4 linked regions of the Homo sapiens genome follow. The protein of the gene in region 1 purifies or fractionates together with the protein of each later gene. This does not show direct contact. Each region holds a gene or a part of one and is shown on either strand. Other genes may lie near its edges.

What was found. Proteins that work in one complex are often made in the same cells at the same time.
Region 2: the proteins of MYO1E (region 1) and LMO7 fractionate together in Homo sapiens (co-fractionation; one large-scale study listed by BioGRID). This does not show direct contact.
Region 3: the proteins of MYO1E (region 1) and SMARCA5 purify together in Homo sapiens (affinity purification with mass spectrometry; one large-scale study listed by BioGRID and IntAct). This does not show direct contact.
Region 4: the proteins of MYO1E (region 1) and CNN3 fractionate together in Homo sapiens (co-fractionation; one large-scale study listed by BioGRID). This does not show direct contact.

What each region holds. Positions count from the first base shown.
Region 1 is NC_000015.10:59,222,872-59,226,371, reverse strand, and holds part of MYO1E (unconventional myosin-Ie), read left to right. Parts: intron 1-1,548; coding exon 1,549-1,683; intron 1,684-3,180; coding exon 3,181-3,313; intron 3,314-3,500. UniProt on the Homo sapiens protein: Actin-based motor molecule with ATPase activity. Unconventional myosins serve in intracellular movements. Their highly divergent tails bind to membranous compartments, which are then moved relative to actin filaments.
Region 2 is NC_000013.11:75,856,330-75,860,366, forward strand, and holds the end of LMO7 (LIM domain only protein 7), read left to right. Parts: intron 1-176; coding exon 177-279; intron 280-1,591; coding exon 1,592-1,614; coding exon of another isoform or gene 1,615-1,684; 3' UTR 1,685-3,537; downstream 3,538-4,037.
Region 3 is NC_000004.12:143,520,202-143,523,701, forward strand, and holds part of SMARCA5 (SWI/SNF-related matrix-associated actin-dependent regulator of chromatin subfamily A member 5), read left to right. Parts: intron 1-1,227; coding exon 1,228-1,394; intron 1,395-3,500. UniProt on the Homo sapiens protein: ATPase that possesses intrinsic ATP-dependent nucleosome-remodeling activity.
Region 4 is NC_000001.11:94,906,611-94,910,110, reverse strand, and holds part of CNN3 (calponin-3), read left to right. Parts: intron 1-3,500. UniProt on the Homo sapiens protein: Thin filament-associated protein that is implicated in the regulation and modulation of smooth muscle contraction. It is capable of binding to actin, calmodulin and tropomyosin. The interaction of calponin with actin inhibits the actomyosin Mg-ATPase activity.

The sequences.
Region 1 (3,500 bases):
GTTTTGTTTTGTTTCATTTCGTGTTTAGTTTGTGGATCACTGGATTAGAAGGACATTAAACTGTGGAAGTAGCTCACATTCAATCTTTTCAATTACACACACATCTTAGGCAATGCCAAATAATTCTTTTAGTTTGTACCTGTTGGTTGAAAAAGTATATAAATGATTAAAACTTCTGTGAATTCAGTCATTTTTAAAATTGTATTAAAGCAACATATATAGATAAGTGAAAAATAATTATATATTTCACATAAATAATACCCAGTGCTAGATGGAAGTGTATAATGGATGTCAGGACTTCTTTAAATAAATGCAAGCCCCAACCCTCCCCCAGGAGTTCTCTGCCCTTAAGTCAGAAACCACCAGAATAGAGGCTGGGAACTGATGGGCGCAGGGGTTCAAGATTCTGACATGAAAGTAATTCTTGGCTGGGTGCGGTGGCTCACGCCTGTAATCCCAGCACTTTGGGATGCCAAGGTGGGTGAATCACGAGGTCAGGAGATCGAGACCATCCTGGCTAACACAGTGAAACCCTGTCTCTACTAAAAATACAAAAAATTAGCTGGCCGTGGTGGTGGGCGCCTGTAGTCCCAGCTACTCAGGAGGCTGAGGCAGGAGAATGGCGTGAACCTGGGAGGCGGAGCTTGCAGGGAGCGGAGATCGCACCAGTGCACTCCAGCCTGGGCGACAGAGTGAGACTCCGTCTCAAAAAAAAAAAAAAGAAAAGAAAAGAAAGAAAAAGAAATTCTTGAAGCTACGAAATACTTGGGAGTGGATGTGGGGAGAAAATCCTGCCACACAGGACCAGGGGACTTTCTAGATATGTAGGATCGGGAGGCATTGAAGAGCCAGCAGGGAAGTAGTTGAAGGATAAGGAGGAAAGCCAGGATCCTGCAGTGTCACCAAGCCAGGGAAGCCTCAGGGCGACATCGACAGGATCAAATGGTCAGAGCTCTTGGGCAAAAGGGACGAGCTGGGGTGTGGGGGCCAAAAAAAAGGCTGTTGGATTTAGGCACTGAAAAATAGCCATGCAAGGGTTCCGCCAGAGTGGTGAGGGGAGAAGCTAGAATGCAAGTGGTTATGTCATGGCAAGGAAGTAGATCCTGCAGCTTGGAGAAGTTCACAGTCAAGGAAAAGCTTCTAAAGAAGGCAAAGAGTACCAGAGAGCAGGAAGCTGCATGGCAGTTTTTTAACATGCACCCTGCAGTGAGAAACATGGAAAAGCCAGCTTAAAAAGCCATAGCAAGTTGGGCAGGAACTAAGTAATTAAAATCTGTTTTGCTTTCCACTCTTCCGAGGGTGGCAGTCCAGTTCCTTTCAGTGGACAATGGAAAATCCTCAGCTCTTGCAGGTCTTTCCAGAGTTAGGAATCAAAATTTGCAGAGATGACCTGGGGCTACTACAAGTACATATTTGGGGGCCAGGACTGCCTGTAATTTTAGAAAGCAGAGATAGAAAGTCCTTAGGGATGGTGGCTGCAGGATGCAGGAGTGACTTCGGGTGCCTTGTGGTCCACATCATGGCTCAACCTGTGTTCTCTTGCTCCAGCTCATCGAGGGCGCCTCTGCAGAGCAGAAACACAGCCTTGGCATCACCAGCATGGACTATTATTACTACCTGAGCCTCTCGGGCTCATACAAGGTTGATGACATTGACGACAGGCGGGAGTTTCAGGAAACTCTGGTAAGTGCTGGCGCAGGGCCAGGCAGGATCTGCTCTCCCAACTGGCCATTTCCTGTGGCCAAAAGGGCAGTGAAGGTTAATAAAGCAAAGAGCTGCATGAAATGTCCGCCTCTTTCTCTGTGAGCACTCTGTATGCTCATACATGTTTCAGTATCCTTAAACAGCCATGTGCCAGTTGCCTGAGGACCACTTAATGATTTGAGATGGGTAAAAAGAAATGAATTCATCATTATCACCCTGCAGGAGCTCTGATAAATAGGCAAAAATGATTCATACGTTGAGCATACCTGTTTGCTGATGGCCTACTCTATTCGTGAGCTATTTCCTTAGAAAAGCTAAGCAAACCGCACGTCTATGGACTGAATAGGTTTAGACATTTTGGAACGTCTTTAGTCTTTTCTCTTATTTCTTTTCTGGTTTTGAAGACTCTCTTCCCCTCTGTATTGTTTAGGGCAGAGGACCCTTTTTCTGTGCCATGCCCTTCACATTGCATGTATGTTATGGTCCAAGCTGTGAAACTAGGTAGATTATGGAGGGGTTCCATCCTGGGGGCAATAATGTAGAACTTTCTGGAGGTAGGCTGAACACCCACTTGGCCTCAAAGGCCTTCATTGCCACCCACTGCCCTTTGAGTCTGTTTCAAGCTGGGGACTATTCCTCAACCCAGATCCAGAACTGAGCAGTAGACTCTGAATGAGCAGCGTGGGTTCAGTACATTTGTGGTTGAAAGGGACAGAAAGTTCAAACAGACTGTGTCCTGGGTGCCAGGAAACAAAATGGTATCAACAGGTCACATGGCCTCAAAGCAGCTGCGGGGAAAAGTGCCAATAAGGAGTCTGCACACTGGTCCTAGAGTGTAGTTTTCTTAGGAGATGTTTCTCTTAAGATTTAGACATTTTAGCGGTATTTATTGCATTTAAGGGACCTCAGAAACTGGACTTTTAAATGATGCTTTTATTGGATTTCCTGGAGATTTTTCATTAAGATCCTTTTGCAAGTACAATATATTCTTATCCCTCCTGATGAAGGGAAAGATCTCGAGTCCACTTTGAGTAGGTGGAAAGGTCAGCAGCGACCTTCGAGGGGAAGCTGGCAACAAGAACACATCAAAGGATGAAGACAGGACTTGGAGACTTTGTGTACAACTACCACTCTTCCGAGTCTCTTTCCTCCTGGAGTATTCTCTTATTCCTGGAGGATGGCATGCTATGCTTAGAGACAGAAGTGCCCTTCCAGCATGACTTTGAGACGTGAGAAGAATGTGTGCATTGGGCAGTGACCATGTTGTACAAGAACGTCCTGCTGTCATCACAAGCTAAGCCACATGTGACTGCACAACCCAATCTTATGTTTTGGCTTTTTTTTTTTTTTTTCTTTGTAACTCGTCTGTACTTGTCACATCCTTATTTAGAGCAGCTGCTGTGCCTTGGCTTCTTCCTAAGGTGCTTTTAAAGCTGGTGACCAGCTTCTCTGGATAGTTTCTCTTTTCTCTTCCAGCACGCCATGAATGTGATTGGGATCTTTGCAGAAGAGCAAACGCTGGTGTTGCAGATAGTGGCGGGTATTCTCCACCTGGGAAACATCAGCTTCAAAGAAGTTGGCAACTACGCGGCTGTGGAGAGTGAAGAGTGTGCGTAGCCCTGGCATGTGGCCATTGAATGAGGGGTGGCTAGCTCTGATTAGAAGTAACCTAGCACTTTCCTTTGCTTAGATCTCAAATGGGAATATTGGGAAGAAGTGATAAATCTACATGTCCTCTGTGGCAAACAGAATGGCTTCACGAGAGACCAGACCTCTTCTATGCACCTGTCCCTGTC
Region 2 (4,037 bases), on another chromosome or scaffold:
TATCTGGCGGTCTTGATTTGAATCTACTAATCATCTTTCGGCCTTTTTTTTTCTTTGCTGAAATGTATCTAAGAGCTTAGAAGTAGCATTCTGCTCATTTCCCCCCCACCCCCAGGAGTGCCCCAAGCTTTCTTGAGCTGACTGATTGTAGATGTTCTTTTTTTTTTGTTCCCCAGTGTGTTGCCTGTGAGTGTGACCTCGGAGGCTCTTCCTCAGGAGCTGAAGTCAGGATCAGAAACCACCAACTGTACTGCAACGACTGCTATCTCAGATTCAAATGTAAGAGAGCAAATCAGAGAGAAAATTTCTTGCCTTTTAAGGAGGCCACGGGTTCCCATGCATTTCCCTGAACCTGCAGCGAGCTCCCCTCCAAGTTCACTGCCATAGGATTCCAGGTTTCAAGAATTGTAGTGTGTTCCCTTCAAAGAGTGTGTATAGTGAATGGGTCACTGCTCAGGGTTCCAGCTACACAGGAGTGGGTTGTGGGGCCAAGGAATGGAGAGGAACAGTGTCCAAAAGTCAGGATGGTGTCTTGTGTTATCTGCCCAGAGTCCGCAGAGACCTTTAATGACTCAAGAATACAAACAAACCAAAACACTTAAATGAATCTTCTATGTAGGATTTGTTTCTTGACTAAAGATTGGTCCCTCATCAACTTCTATTATTTAACAATGGGCTTTGATTATGTGATTTAGAATATGACCAACTTTAAAAAATATTGTTCCATGTAATACAAAATAAGTCAGTTTATGCTTTATGTTAATATATGTCAATATATAATTTTAAAAGGAAAGTATTAACTATGGTGTTTCAGTGTCATTTTTGGAAAAAATGAGTTTTTCAAAAAACTTCAAATGCTACTTTGCATCTAAGCATGTGTTTGTGTGTTATAAAAGGTAGGCTAGCATAACTAGGTTGTGTGTTGTGTATAGCTACAGCAAGACAAGTATTACTGCTGTTTTATATTTTAAACCTTGATGCTGGTAACATGTGTTTCTTCCTTATTGTGAAAGGGTGTTACAAGTGGTATCAGCAAAATCATTTGCTTTTGAACTCTGAGGTATTTATATGGCCCCTATGTGAAGAGTGCTTTGGAAATGGTTTAAGCCCAGTCAACTCTCTTTTATCTGTCGGTGGGTTCTGAGCCTTCCTGCTGCAGCTGTCCAGTCCTTTCCTGGATGCTGACACTGAGGTTGGAGAAAGTCAAGGCTGGGCATGTACTGGTGGGGGGTGTGTGTATGTGTGTGTGTTTTTCTCTCTCTCATCAAATTCCAAAGCCAAATAGAAATGATTTCTGGAATCACCATTGTAAAATTGCCCATGCCTTTTCTCTCCTCCAAAACAAATAATAGAGAGTTGAGTGTAATTTATTTCTATTGTGAGCAGTTCATTTTTACTCCATTTTTACAAATAAAGAATTCCAGAGACGAGACACTGAGACTTGCCTAGCTTTATCCTAAGAGTGAGTGACAGGTTACTCTTTCTACCTCATTGGGCCACTTTCTGAGTGATGACTGCTATGTATCCCAGATGGCAATATTCACGTTTCTGAATCTAAGCACTTTTCTTTCTTTTCTCCTTGCCCGATCAGCTGGACGGCCAACCGCCATGTGATGTAAGCCTCCATACGAAAGCACTGTTGCAGATAGAAGAAGAGGTGGTTGCTGCTCATGTAGATCTATAAATATGTGTTGTATGTCTTTTTTGCTTTTTTTTTAAAAAAAAGAATAACTTTTTTTGCCTCTTTAGATTACATAGAAGCATTGTAGTCTTGGTAGAACCAGTATTTTTGTTGTTTATTTATAAGGTAATTGTGTGTGGGGAAAAGTGCAGTATTTACCTGTTGAATTCAGCATCTTGAGAGCACAAGGGAAAAAATAAGAACCTACGAATATTTTTGAGGCAGATAATGATCTAGTTTGACTTTCTAGTTAGTGGTGTTTTGAAGAGGGTATTTTATTGTTTTTTAAAAAAAGGTTCTTAAACATTATTTGAAATAGTTAATATAAATACATAATTGCATTTGCTCTGTTTATTGTAATGTATTCTAAATTAATGCAGAACCATATGGAAAATTTCATTAAAATCTATCCCCAAATGTGCTTTCTGTATCCTTCCTTCTACCTATTATTCTGATTTTTAAAAATGCAGTTAATGTACCATTTATTTGCTTGATGAAGGGAGCTCTATTTTCTTTACCAGAAATGTTGCTAAGTAATTCCCAATAGAAAGCTGCTTATTTTCATTAATGAAAAATAACCATGGTTTGTATACTAGAAGTCTTCTTCAGAAACTGGTGAGCCTTTCTGTTCAATTGCATTTGTAAATAAACTTGCTGATGCATTTAACGAGTGGGTCGTCTTTTTCTTAGGTGTATGTGTCTGACCTCAGGCCTTTTAGCCATATTTCAGTATGTGGCCTTTTTTGATGTTATGTTTTATCCAGTAGCTTTACTAAGGTATAATTGATGTAATAAACTGCATATATTTAAAGTGTATACTTTGACAAATTTTGACATGGTGTATACCTTCGAAACTATGCCACAGTCTGGATGTGTTTACTGAAACATTTTAATAAGGAAGTTTATTTTTGATAAAGTTATGTTTTTGGATACAATATATTTGTATGGTGAGAGTGATGAATTGTTGGATCATTTGAATAAAATCTTTTACTAACCCCATGATAAAAGGAGAAGACAACAGTGAGCTTAGAATATCTATAAAGCAAAAAATGTAGTCTCTTGTTTAAAAAATCTGGAGCGGGAATGCAAGGATACAAAACTTTAGCATGCTTTGAGCAAAAATTTAAACTTACTGGAATCTTTTATAATAATGTAAGTGGAATGGAGGATTCTAGGAACTGAGAACTGTATTGGAATAGGTTCAAAATATGTAAGAAATGCTAATGTGGGAGATAAAAATTTTATTTAGTACTTATTCTGATTATTATTAAAGTAATAATGTGTTCCTTGAGGATAACTTGTCAAATGCCCCAAAGCATAAAGAATATAATTCTGAATCCCAAATTCCAAAGACAAGAACTCTGTGTTTGAATTCATTCTGCATATAATTATTTATAAGTATAGATTGTGAATTTTTCCATGTTCTTAAAATTATTTTTATCTTTTTTCATGGTTGCATAGTGCTCCATTGTTTGGCCTTGGTAATATTTAGTTGATAATTCCATTACTGTGTATTTTTCACTTGTTTCTAAGATCAAACATTTTAATATGTGCATGTTATATATAAATATGTAAATTCTGTGATACTCTATGATCATCTCTTTCTTTATATTATTTTCATAGACATGAAATAGTTGCTCAGAGATTATGCATTTTAAGACACTCATAGTATATATTGCCAAAGTGGTTTCCAGAAAGGCACTGCTGGCTTCGACTCCTATAAGCAGCACGTGGGCTTGTTCATCTCACTGCATGTTTATGAAGATACAGTTCTTTTGCCTTGTTCTCTGCCTGATGTGTATGCAGAGGCAGCCCTCAATATGCAGTGGTTGAATAAATGAATGAAGAAACCACTATCAATTTCTGCCTTGTTAATTCTGTTTTCCACTGTCCCCAGAGGATGCCTTAATTCTGCCATCATTTTCGTTTCCTTATCCAAAATCCTTTCTGACCATTGCTCCTTTTCATCTAAGCCTTTTGTCTTTTCATCTGCTCTTGTTTTCTTATGATTTTTTCCCCCATTTCTCACATTATCTTACTTAGTGATAACATTTCTGTTAGTACAAATTATAAGTACAGTTTTCAGAGCTATTTTCTTCTAGGATACCGGCTCTACATTTGTATAAGCCCTTGGGTATTTGTTACTTCACCTAGGAACAAGGGAAGAGTCCAGCCCTTCAACAAATTTTTTAATTCATACTTTATGCTCCAGGCACTGCTTTTGGCACCATGGGTAGAACAGTGAAGAAATACAGTCTTGGCTCTGATTGGTCTTATTTTTCTGGTTGAGGGAGGTGATAAAACAATACATGAAAAAATAACATGCAGGTGGCGATGAGAGCAACAAAGAACAAAT
Region 3 (3,500 bases), on another chromosome or scaffold:
ACATCTTGTAGATGCGTGCTCTTGGCTTTTGTTTCATTATCTATAAATTAAGAAATGTAATTATGTAAAATATGCATTCACATATGTATCTTGTTCAGCACTTTAAAAACAGTCTGTAATCTTGGAAAACATAAATAACAGAGGCTTGTCATCTGTAGGACATTACTGGGGTTCTAGCATGTTCACAGTCTTGTTACTGTGCAGATTCATTTGCTGCTATGACTGCCATTTGTGACCCAATGAAACACTATAACCATGTGCCTTCCTAATAGCAAATTGGGCTTCAGTTTTTACATTGGTGTGACCTTAAAAAATGATTATGTTCCTTTTAAAAATACGTAGTTGTTACAACATTATGGCATTTGGATACTTCTTGTGTTTGCTAGGTAAAATGTCTTTTTGTAATTTATTCCCAAACTGACATTTTAAACATTTATAGACAGAGATGTTGAGTAGTTGGTTTCCCTGTTTATTGAGCTTTTCTTGTCTTGCTTCTCCTTTGTTTCATCAAACTATTATTGTTTTTGTATAAAGGCTGCCTAATGGCTCCCAATTTCATTATTTTTATGAAAATTTGTCTTCGAGGCTCTTAAGGTTTTTTTTGCCCAAGTAAATTTTTTCCATTCTCTCGGTATTATAATAGGGAACATTCAAAGGGGCAGATGGCAGATACGAAAGGAAGGAATAGTATCAATCCCAATACCGTTTTAAAATTTGTCACAGCCTAACTAATGAATGAGCACTGCATTTTTTCCAGCTTCTGAGTAAATTCACTTGTATTGCACAGTGTTTAATATTTTAAAAATTGTTCCGATCAACTGTATTGAAGTATAATTGACATAAAATAATTTTAAGTTTGTAATTCAATGAGTTTTAGCAAATATTTCTTTAAATACCATCACAATCATGATGCAGAGTAGTTCCATCATCCCCAAAGTTTGCTCCTGCTCCTTTCTAATCAGTTCTTGCTCCCACCTCCTTGCCACTTCTGATCTGCTTTCTATCACTAGTTAGCATTTCATTTAAGTGGAATCATACAGCATGTAGTCTTTTGTGTTTGGCTTCTTTCACTTTGCATAGTGCTTTTGAAACTCATCCATGTTGCATTTATCTGTAGTTCTCTTTTTTTTTTTGCTGAGTTCATTGTATGGAGGCATGCTGAAACTTTGATTTCTGAAGTTTTAATTGATACTCTGATAAAATGTATCTTAAATTTTTTTTTTTCAGCAAACTGACCGGGCAAATAGATTCGAGTATTTATTAAAGCAGACAGAACTTTTTGCACATTTCATTCAACCTGCTGCTCAGAAGACTCCAACTTCACCTTTGAAGATGAAACCAGGGCGCCCACGAATAAAAAAAGATGAGAAGCAGAACTTACTATCCGTTGGCGAGTGAGTAATAGTTTAAACTTCATAGTTCAACCAAACTTATTTTCGATAGTCTTCAGTGGAAGCATAAAATCACTATGATAAATAACTTAAAATTATTTTAGTGCCATTATTTATTTGGCCCTGTTTGGCTTGGCATGATTTAGCCATAAATGTATAAGTATATAAAAATACGCATAATGGTTAGAGCACAGTGGCTCTTGCCTGTAATCGCAGCATTTTGGGACGCCAAGGTGGGAGGATTGCTTGAGTCCGGGAGTATGAGAGCAGCCTGGGCAACGTAGGGAGATCCCATCTCTACAAAAAAAAAAAAAAAAAAAAAAAAGAATAAAACTGCATAACGCCTTATTTTTTGTAGCATTATATAGTTTATGAATTGTAACAATCATGTTGAGTATGGAATTTAGATGTCACGTCATTCCTCAGAGAGGAAACAAATGCAGAGGTTAAGTGGCTTGTTTAACATCACATTGAAGAATGATCCAGACTTGAATTTGAATCTGACTTGGGTGTGCTCTAGGCTCCTCCATCACATACAGATGTTGACAGTATTTTATCTAAAGTGTGGTGTGTGGGATATTGTGATGACTTACATCACGGCAGCCTGTTTAAAATTTTTATTGCATACTTAGTTGTTTTTATATAAATTGAAGTGTCACGTTGTATGCCGTCCTTTGGTGGTGGTTGAAAATAATTCTTACATGTTGAATTTGGAAATTCTCTAGAATTTTCATTCTGGTTGGATAAATAAGATGTTTAATTAGTAATAGTAGATTTAGGGCAGTCTTGGCTCCCTGAAATGGCTTTGTGTAATTCCCAAAGTGAAAACTGTGATTAGTAATTAAAATACAAAAGATTGTTTAAAAGAAGAAGTATCAACAAGGTTAAATTCACTACACAGTTTGTTGAAAGAGGGAAGTATGATCTTCATCTTGAAGGGGTTATCGTTGTAAGCATAATACCTTTTATTTGGGGTATTCCACTCATTCATTATATCTTATTTCTCATCCATTGTGACCAAAGCACTATTTTAATACTTACGAAACTTTGAAGGGACAATTTTGCCCTTCAGCTGTATTTAAAATATTTCAGACTTCAGAAGTTTGCATTAGTGTCATGGCATGAAACTGGAAACTACTGTACTGAATATTGTTATGGGATAGTCAGTATGATGTCTCGAAAAGAAACACTTCTTTTATTCTTTTCTATTTTATTATTATCCTAATTTATCTTTTTTATAAGATAAAAAAGATTCTATTGGAAATAGTAATAATAAATTGTTAGGCTTAATGTATTAAATAGTGTTATTAGGGAAAAAAGTCCTAGTTAACAGATTTCTTTACTCCTCAAACCATCTTAAATGGGAAGCTAATTTACCTAAAGTAATGAGGGTCATAGTATTGTCTTTGGGTATCAGGAATACATTTTTTTAAATCTTTTTTTGTTTGTTTGTTTTTATTGAGACAGAGTCTTGCTCTGTGGCCCAGGCTGGAGTGCGTGCAGTGGTGTGATCTCGGTTCACTGCAAGTTGTGCCTCTGGGGTTCAAGCGATTCTTGGACCTCAGCTGGGATTACAGGCTCACGCCACCACGCCCAGCTCATTTTTGTATTTTTGGTAGAGATGGGGTTTCACCATGTTGGCCAGGCTAGTCTCGAACTTCTGACCTCAAGTGATCCACCCACCTCTGCCTCCTAAAGTGTTGGGATTACAGGCGTGAGCCACTGTGCCTGGCCAGGAATACGTTTTTTTTTTAAGTCATTCACGATTATATTCAATTTTTAACAATAAATGACATCTCAGCTTTTAAGTTTTACAACTGTAATAATCAAACATTTTGAGAGTAACTATAAAGGATATTTTATAAAAAGAATTTAAAATTATCTCCCAGTTTATGGAGAATAAATAGGGGATGGAAGTAGATCTTTGTACTCAATTTCATAGGCTCAGAATGCAGAGAAGTACAAGGAATAACAGACTAGGATGTACTGATTATGATTAGAAGCATATATAACAAACAAGAAGGCCCTTGAATTTCTGAGGAATGCTTCTATCTTGGAAGGCCGCTTATCCTTTTAGCAAGCATGTGGTTTTGGTAGAAATGAAGTTAC
Region 4 (3,500 bases), on another chromosome or scaffold:
GCCACAGCTGAAATTAGGGAGACTGTTGTAATCACTGGGGACAATAACCAGGAATTGTCTGCTTCCAGGTTTGAACAAGCTCTGTGATGATAATACATTGTGAGAAGGAATCCATGTGAAAAACAAGCAGTCTTCATTCTTCAGTAGATTCTGGAATGTCCTGGGTGTAATGGGGGCATCAGACAGTTCTTGTACATGAATGTCATCACTCTACCTCATGGCAGATGTGCCCCCATCTTTTTTTCAAATGGTACTTGAGCTGAATGCTCTCGGCGTACACCGAGAAGTACCATTCAACAGCGCAGGAATCGAGCTTTTGGGTCAGCTGTGGAGGTGCTTTTTGAAGCTAGGTCTCCCTTTACTCTTTCTCCCTTTCTGAGGGTTCTTAGGGGGAAGCTTCTCAAATTTCAGAGCCAGGGAGGGGCATGGCTGTTTCCCAGCAGCTGGTAGGCTTGTATCTGCTCTAGTGTCTGCCTTCACTGTTAGGACACATAGGCCCTCGGGGTTGTGTTTCTGAAGGTGGTCTTAGTCCAGAGCTCTTGGATATATGATTAATAGTGATATGTGATATGTGTGCCTGTGGGCTGGAAGAATAATTGGCTGAAGGATAGGCCCTTCCCTCTGGGAATGGAGTGTGATTTGTGGGGGGAGAGACTTGTACATTTTAGTGTTATCTCAGTGTTTCTTAACCTTGTTTTCATGATCACCTTCTCCAAGAGTTGTTTTAGACATTGTTCCTAGTTACCTCCTATCCCTTGCTAGATTTAGTACAAAGGAATAAGATTTTGTTGGGTAGAGTTGAGCTTTGGAGGGTCCCAAGTTTTTGTATTGTCTTAAGATTTTTTTCACCATTGGTAGAAACCACCACAAGAAACACTTTTCACCTCTTTGGGACACCACCACCCCTGTTGAGAATGCATGCGCTACATACTTGTATATCATTTATTTGTTTATTTTTGTTTTAAAGACAGAGTCTCACTTTGCCACCCAGGCTGTAGTGCAGTGACATGATTATCAGTCACTGCAACCTGGAACTCCTGGCTTCAAGCAATCCTCCTGCCTTGGCCTCCCAAAGTGCTAGGATTACAGGCATGAGCCACCCACCTGGCCTATTTTTTTTTTTTTTTTTTTAAAGAGACGGGCTCCCTATATTGCCCTGGCTGGTCTCGAACTCCTGGGCTCAAGGATTCCTCCTGCCTCAGCCTCCCAAAGTTGCAGGATTACAGGCCTGAGCCACCATGCCTGGCCCAGCCTAATTTTTTTAAAAAAATTATTATTTTGGAATTGGCTGGGCGTAATCCCAGCACTTTGGGAGGCTGAGGTGGGCGGATCACCTGAAGTCAGGAGTTCAAGACCAGCCTGACCAACATGGCGAAACCCCATCTCTACTAAAAATACAAAAATTAGCTGGGTGTGGTGGTGGGCACCTGTAATCCCAACTACTCAGGAGGTTGAGGCAGGAGAATCGCTTGAACCCGGGAGGTGGAGGTTGCAGTGGGCCAAGATCACGCTATGGCACTCCAGCTTGGGTGACAGAGCGAGACTCCGTCTCAAAAAAACAAACAAACAACAACAAAAAACCAATTATTATTTTAGAATTACAAAAGAAAGTGAGGGCTAAAGAAAGGTCATGAAACAAGAAAGGACTGATCTGCATTTGAACTGAAGGGTGACTCCACACTGGTGCTCTTAGCTGTCCTGAGGAGAGAGCCAAGGGAAGCTCTAAGGGCTGAAGCCGCCACCACGACCACAACAGGATGAGCCCTGGACCCAGGCACAGGAACATGAAGAGGAGCAGGTGAAGCTGTCGGAGGAGCGAGAGCAGAGCAGGCCAATCGCTGAATGTAGGGAGGAGGATCAGCTGTATCCTATGCCCTAGGAGGCTTTTTTCTTGGTCTTCATTATCTTCACATGTTGATTGTATCTGGCTAGAGGGATGTTGGAGAGTTTCGGGGAGGAGTCTCCAGCAGGTGTGCCTAGACAGTATTCTCCTCGGTCTCTGGATCATTTGTAAGTGCTCCTTGATGCAAAGAAGGCTGTCAGGCACTGCTTGGAGAATGTGTGCGTGTTTAAGAAAGGAAGGTGGGCATATAAAGAGAGGGGCTGCTGTGGATTTGAAAGAGCCAGGCAGAAAGTCTGCGAAAGCAGCTTGGGAAGGCCAAGAAAATAAATCTTGAAGAAGAATAAAGAAAAGGATGTTTATCAACAACTTGGAAGAGTAATTTTTATTTTATTTTTATTTCTTATTTTTGAGACGGAGTCTTGCTCTGTTGCCCAGGCTGCAGTGCAGTGGCACCATCTCAGCTCACTGCAAGCCCCGCCTCCCGGGTTCACACCATTCTCCTGCCTCAGCCTCCCAAGTAGCTGGGACTACAGGCGCCCGCCACCACACCCGTCTAATTTTTTGTATTTTTAGCAGAGACAGGGTTTCACCGTGTTAGCCAGGATGGTCTTGATCTCCTGACCTCACGATCTGCCCACCTTGGCCTCCCAGAATGCTGGGATTACAGGCGTGAGCCACTGCGCCCTGTCAGGAAGAGTAATTTTTAAGTAAATTAGAGTGAAATTTCCATGAAGTATTAATGAGGTAAGTTTAAGCAATTATTTTAAGCTAACTTTCTTTTGTTGAGAGAAAGAAAATGTCAGCGTTTTTCTGCCAGATGTTGAGAAATTAAAGCTTTTTAGATGAAGATAGTAAATCATTTTTATTGGCCAAAGATTACTTTTTTAAATTGCTCTCAGTTCCTTGATTTTAAAAGATAATGCTGTTTAGCTGGCCTGACTGCATAAAGCTCACTTACTAGAAAAATATTCGAAGTATTTGGATAGGAGAATCCTGTTGCTCCTTTACTTAAAGGAAACCCTTAGCCCACACCAACAGTTATTTGATGTGGCTGCATTCCTAGTCTTAATTTTTAATTGATCATATGGGGCTTTGAGTTTTGCATGCTTGTACATACGAATTTCTTCTGTGCACGTGGTCATATGGTAAGTCTCAAGGACAGCATCACCTGTCCAGAGCTCCCCCCCACAACCACTCATTGGTAGAGCCAGGATTTGAACTGAGGTCCATCTGACTCCAGTGCTTGATTTTTCTATCTCATCACTTCCTTGACAAGAACTGTCAACAGAGAAGGTGAAAACTTCTTACTGGGATCTACTAGGATATTTCAAGTTAGGTCTGTAGTCACTTCGTGGTTTGGGGCATGGCACCAAATCTGTTGGACACATTTTGAACAAAGGATGCATAAATATGCTTTTAATGTTTTTCTGCTTAAATATTAATTGATGTCATTTGGTATGAGAATTACCATCACCATCCTGTGAAATATCCCAAACTACTCTAACATAATTTTTCTCTACATTTGAAGAAACGAGAAAATACTTCTTCAGTTTTTTATTATTTGACCAAATTGTGTAGATAGCTGAGAGTAGGAACGGACCTAGTGCAGGCATCCAGTTTAGACTTCCTCTTGGATCGAGAGAAGTTAGAGGAACTA